Linked DNA regions of Homo sapiens: region 2 is linked to region 1. The links come from fine-mapping of genetic effects on gene expression. A gene starts in region 1. The other region holds a variant in brackets. All regions are shown on one strand. Distances are between the middles of the regions.

Region 1 (2,720 bases):
AAACATTGCTGTGGGTTCAGGTCATCGGGAAGTCTTCACTGAGAACTATAGGATTTCACTAAGTAGGTAGGCTCAGGGAGGAATATCCAGTTGAAGAAAGCCTCGGTAGTGAAATATGAGGTTAATCTGGGCAGCTGAGGTGACTGCTTGGGTCACATCATGGGCTCTTATAGGGGAGAAAAGTTTCCTGGATAGGTTGGGACCAAACTGTACAGAACTTAAACTGCCAAGAATTTGGATTTTTTTCCTATAGGCAGTGACAGCTTCTCCAGAAGAAAATCAGACTTTGCTTAGTAGCTTATGGAATAGCCTGAAATTGGCACTTTCTTATGTAGGGTCAGAGCAGCATAAGCTCCTGGAAACTGCCTGCTCAACAAGCAGTGGGGACCAGGCCTACCTAACCAGGAAATTTACAGTGATATGGAAAGTGTGACTTTGGATTGATTGACCTATTTGGGGGTGGGTGGTAAGTTTAAGCACATGATAATGTCACCTGGGAGAGAAGAATCCAGAGGGTGTACCTGTGTGAAACCCGTCAGGGAAGAGGGAGGCAGGCCTTTCACCTTGGTATATTGCTCTAAGCATGTGTATAACCAAATTGAGTGACACTTTCTACCTTTCTTTCAGTCTGTCTGTCTGTCTTTATTTTTGTCTTTGTTTTACTATTTTTACTTTCTTAAACATTTTTATTGATTTTTTAATATACGGTGGGATTTTACTGTGTTGCCTGGGCTGGTCTCAAACTCCTGGGCTCAAGGAGTCCTTCCACTTCAGCCTCCCAAAGTGCTAGGATTACAGGTGTGAGCCACACGCCTGGACTTCTCTTTATTTTATTGAACCCCTACTGTGAATCAAGGGGTTAAGAGCTAACTACAAGGAGATGAAATGAAAAGACCACTGAAGTGGGAAGGGAAACACCTGGGCTATTATCGGGCTCCGTGGCTAACTTATTGAGTCCTCTTGGTCACCTCACTGGGTCTCTTCAGATATGAAAGAGGATTTAGCATTAGATGGGACCAAGACTTCCTCCAACTCTGTGATTCTAGAACAGGCTGATGTCACAAAGGGAGAAGAACGCACCGTAGCAACCAGGGGCAAGGCTACTCAAGGAGAGTAGGAGGAGGCTAGGTCAGGAAGGGCAAGCACTGGTGGCCTACCCAGGACTTGGCCCAACCCTCTGGGTCAGGTCACCCTCGTCGGAGTGAGCGGACCCCGCTGGAATTGGAGCCCAGTAAGGTCTATGAGTTTGGTGTTTTGATCCTGGCTACCCATCCCTTCCATCCCAGGGGTGGTTCACCAGGCTGAGTGGAGCCTTATACTAGGGAGAGAGGAAGCTGAAGAACTGGGCTCCAGGTAAGTAACTCTGCAGAGGATCTCAGATTGTCTAAGGAAACCACTGAAGAAAATGTATGCCCCGCCCCTCCCCTTTTTCCTGGCACTGCTGAGCCACCTGCAGTTGCGAGAGCCGCTGGGAGGGATAAGAGGGAAGAGGACGCCCGGTGAAGGGGCTCCAGCCTGGCAGTTTCTGCGTGTTAGCATTTCTAGAATAGAGTGGGTGGGAACTGACCCAAGTAAAGTCCCAGAGACTCGAACACTGACGCACAGGAAAGCCTCAAGTGGGAGGAGAAATGCAAATCCCCTACTGATGATGGCGTCAGCGGCTTTCTCCTAGGGACTGTGAGGGGCGCTTCTGACTTTGGACTTGAGCACTGCCTGGGACCTGTGCTGAGAGAGCGCTAGGTAAGTGGCCAGACCACACCTTCTGGCTGCCTCTTGTAAGGAGGACATGCTTATTATGCAGGATACTCTGAAGCTTTGCTTTCCCTTGGCGTTTTGACAATTGCTTCATTTTAACCTTCCTGAGGAGGCTTATTATAGAAGGAAGCGCCCGACTCCACGACCCACAGATGCGCCCTGGCACGGGTTCTCCGCGGAAACCGCTCCGCAGGCCCGCGCCACGGTGCCCGGGCGAATCTCCCTGCGGGGGCCAGGGGAGCTGCGGCGGCTGCGGAGGTGTGTCCTCGCGGAGGCTGAAAGTGAGCCCCTCTTCACTTTCTTAGCCAGCTTCTCTAGAGCTGTGATGTCTGACTTTAGATTAGCGTACCTGGATTTCAGAAAAAAGCTTGCAGCTACGGCAGCCGGTGACTGTGGCTTTGATGGGCGCGAGTGACATTTTAGGGCAGGTCATCTCCTTTTGCAAGCTACAGGCCACAGAGCCAAAGCGGCACCACCAGCTCACAGACGGTGGGACAAAATGCCCCTTTAGTGGGATCTTCTAGGAAATGCACGCAAAAAGGACAGACAGGCACTGAGTTTTCAGAAGCAACGTCACAGTTTTCATGAGAAAGAAGTAGCCCCTAGAGAGTGAAAGCAAAGAAACCTGCTGAAGGATGTCTAAAGGCGTTCCCAGAGGCTGCAATAGAAAATGTCCTAGGACTATGTATTCCTTCTTCTTCCTTTTTTCAGCTTTGAATTCAGCTCTCCGAAAGACTCAGATCTTAGTAGTGATTTTTTTCGGTGTTTATTTTTATTTTTTTTAATTTTCCTTTTATTTTCATTTGACACACAATTGTAAATATTTATGGAATATACAGTGATATTTCAATAAATATGAACAATGTGTTATGATCAAAGGATATTCAGCATATCCATCACCTCAAACATTTATCATTACTTTGTGTTGTGAACATTCAAAATCCTCTTAGCTTTTTGAAAATATA
Region 2 (3,023 bases), 93 kb before region 1:
GGCTGCCGGCCGACTGCGCGCCGCGCGCTCTGGTACTGCCTCCACGCGCCGCGGTTGAGGCTCCCGTGCGCACCCAGCTGCGGAGTGCTCAGCGGCGGCGGGAGGAGCCCGGCCACTCCCCTCTCGCCCGCTGGCGGAGGGGCCGGCCGAGGGGCGGGGGCGGCGACCTCGCTGCCTGGGATTCGCCCCTCGGCGCGCGGGCAGGAACGGGAGCCACCGCCTCCGAGCCGACTCACCTCTGTCCGCCCGGTGCCGGCTTCACAGCGCCCCCCGGTGAGCGTCGCGGCGGCCTCCGCGCCTTGCGGGTTTGCGGCCCGACCCTCCGCACCCGGGGCGAGCCTGGATGGGACGAGGCTTGAGGGAAGGAGGGGCGATCGTCGCGGCCCCCACGGAAGGCAGTCTTTCTACCTTTTTTGCTTCCAGACTCACTGACATAAAATGAGAAATACAACATTTGACAACTCGAAGCCAGCCTGGGGTCACATTCCGGCAAACAGTGGGAGTAAGTCTCAATTTTTCCTCCTCCCCAAGATGAAAATTTTTGGATGCCGAGAATATCAGAAAATATTAGTTTCACAGAAAAAGAAAAAAATTATACTGAGTGGTGTGGTGTGTCTTCATTTACAAGACTTTTAGTATCTTTTAAATTACTTAATCTCACATTGTGGGAAATAGACACTGGCCAATTCTTTGTGTTATAAATACATGAGAGGTAGTTTAAAAGAAATTTCAAATACCCATACGTATTTGAATAGAGTGTATTAACAGGTCCTGAGTAATGATCAGTGATGGGGTATATTATACAGGCATGTAGGGGCCAGAGAATCAGGACACCCCCCCTACACACACACACACACCTTCTCACTCAAGCCCTATTGCCTCATTGGAGAATTTAGAACAATCCTCTTGACCCAGGTCCTGGTTTCTTCATCCTCGCACAGGGAAGGGTGCGCATTCAAACTTACTCACTGGGTGAGATGAGGATTACTTGGCTGAGGTGTTAAAAGCACTGTAGACACAGTAATTATTACTCATGGTTCTAACTACTTTATCCTATAATGAAATAAATTGCCATAAATGGGCCAGGTTTAAATGGACTGACCTGTATCTGGAAACTGTCACTAAAGTGAGGTGAACCAAAGAATTCAGACCATATATAGTAACTGTTCCCACTGGCATAAGAACCACAGGCGCTGGGATTTGTTAAATGCCACTAGTAGAGTTTGGAAAGGTGGGACCTTCACAGACTATATCTGCTGGGAACTGTCTCATCATTGATGTCACCATCAGCATCACTTCAGATGTACAAGTGGTGTGATAATGGGCGAAACTAACACATACTGGGTACCAGGGACTGTTCTTTGTTTAATCCTCACAAAAAGCTCTGAGGTAAGTTTCTCTCATTATCCTTGTTTTACAGACCAGCAAAGCCAAGGACAGAGAGGTCTTCAGGGAATACATGGCTATGGTGGTTTGAAGACTCCCATTAGAGAGTGGATATTAATTGCCCTCCTTTTGAATATGGTCTGGACTTAGTGATTTGATTGTAACAAATAGAATACAGCAGATGTGATGCTATGTGACTTCCAAACCTAGGTCATAAAAGGAGAT[G/A]AAGTTTTCACCTGGCTCTCCCTTGGGACACTCACCCTTGGAACCCAGCTGCCATATTGTGAGGAAGCTCAAGCCACAGGGAAGGCCATGTGTAGGTGTTTGGGCTGATGGTGCCAGCTGAGGACCTGGTCTACTGCCAGTACAACTTATATCAAGCATGTGAGTTGGCGAGCTTTTGAAAGAACTCCAGCCACAGTCACTGACCACGCTGCCTGAGAGACCTAGAGAGAAAACCTAGCTGAGCCAAATCAGGCCCCGGAAACGTAAGTGATAATAATAAAAGATTGTCATCTGGGTGGTTGTTACATAGCAATAGACACCTAGAACAGTGACAGAGCTGGAATTTGAACCCAGATAGTCTGACTCTATAGTCTTCACTATCAAGCACACTACCTCAGACCTTGATAACCTAGCATAATGAAAACCCTGGAGATCCCAGCCTTCACAATAGGCAACATATGAACCTGCTACCTGGTGACGTGTGTTAGACTCACTTCTCCATTTTGCTTGTCTGAGTTTAGGTTCCCAAGTGACTGCTTATAGCAGTTTGGCAGTTCATGGAACTTCTGACCTCTACTGTCCAGTTCAGCTTTTCAAAAATAGCAGAAATGCAGATGGCAGGTTCATGAATATAAGATGTATACAAATTGAAGAGTGGGGGAATTCTATAAACTTTTGATCTTGGAAGGTGGCCAGATTTTAGAAAAAGTAGGTTTGAGACAACTATGTGCTGAGTAGGTCTATCAAAATAGCTAGCTACTAGAAGTAAAGTTTTGAAACTCCTGACTCAAGAAAGGGATAGGACACAGTTATGTCAGAACAGTTCGGCCTCTAGAAGGACCTCGCATAGTGAGGACAATTAAGACTTTCTCCATGATTTTAGCAAGTTCAAAAAAGAAAATAATAGAAACTGTAGAACTTATCCTAATAAACACTAAGAAAATGAACCAAGTTATTAGCCAAAAATATTTCTAGAGAAAAATCATGCTTCTCTTTTAAAAATACTGTTTACCTAGTTTTCATAAATCTCAAAACCCAAGTTTCTGAGGACATACAGGTTTTAAAACACTTTTACCTTCCTGGCCATTTTTTTCAAAAACCAATCAATCAACAACTTTTGAAATTATAAAAAGCAGATTAAAGTTATTCCCACAATTGTCAAGAATAGATAATAGGCTGGGCGCAGTGGCTCACACCTGTAATCCCAGCACTTTGGGAGGCTGTGGCAGGCGGATCATGACGTCAGGAGTTCGAGACCAGCCTGGCCAATATGGTGAAATCCCATCTCTACTAAAAATACAAAAATTAGCCAGGCGTGGTGGCACGCTCCTGTAGTCCCAGCTACTCAGGAGGCTGAGGCAGAAGAATCACTTGAACCCAGGAGGTGGAGGTTGCAGTGAGCCAAGATCACG

Alleles and levels. Alleles are on the strand shown, and positions count from the first base shown. SD is a standard deviation of normalised expression in the study named.
As copies of G replace A in region 2, the expression in subcutaneous fat of the gene that starts at base 1,693 in region 1 goes up (moderate effect, 0.46 SD a copy in GTEx).

The links. PIP is the estimated chance that this variant, and not a neighbour inherited with it, causes the effect.
Region 2: its variant is fine-mapped to the expression of STAT4 in subcutaneous fat (GTEx, PIP above 0.99). The same link has a PIP of 0.9 or more in breast and sigmoid colon.

Annotation. Positions count from the first base shown.
Region 1 is chr2:191,149,967-191,152,686 of GRCh38, reverse strand. STAT4 (signal transducer and activator of transcription 4) reads left to right here and starts at 1,693. Exons shown (of 24, transcript NM_003151.4): 1 at 1,693-1,740. RefSeq lists enhancers at 1,274-1,353, 1,484-1,533 and a silencer at 2,004-2,053.
Region 2 is chr2:191,242,471-191,245,493 of GRCh38, reverse strand. MYO1B-AS1 (MYO1B antisense RNA 1) reads left to right here. Exons shown (of 4, transcript NR_186085.1): 2 at 1,421-1,874. MYO1B (myosin IB) reads right to left here and starts at 90. Exons shown (of 31, transcript NM_001130158.3): 1 at 1-90. RefSeq lists a silencer at 1-169 and an enhancer at 1-204. The variant G/A (reference allele first, on the strand shown) is at 1,612.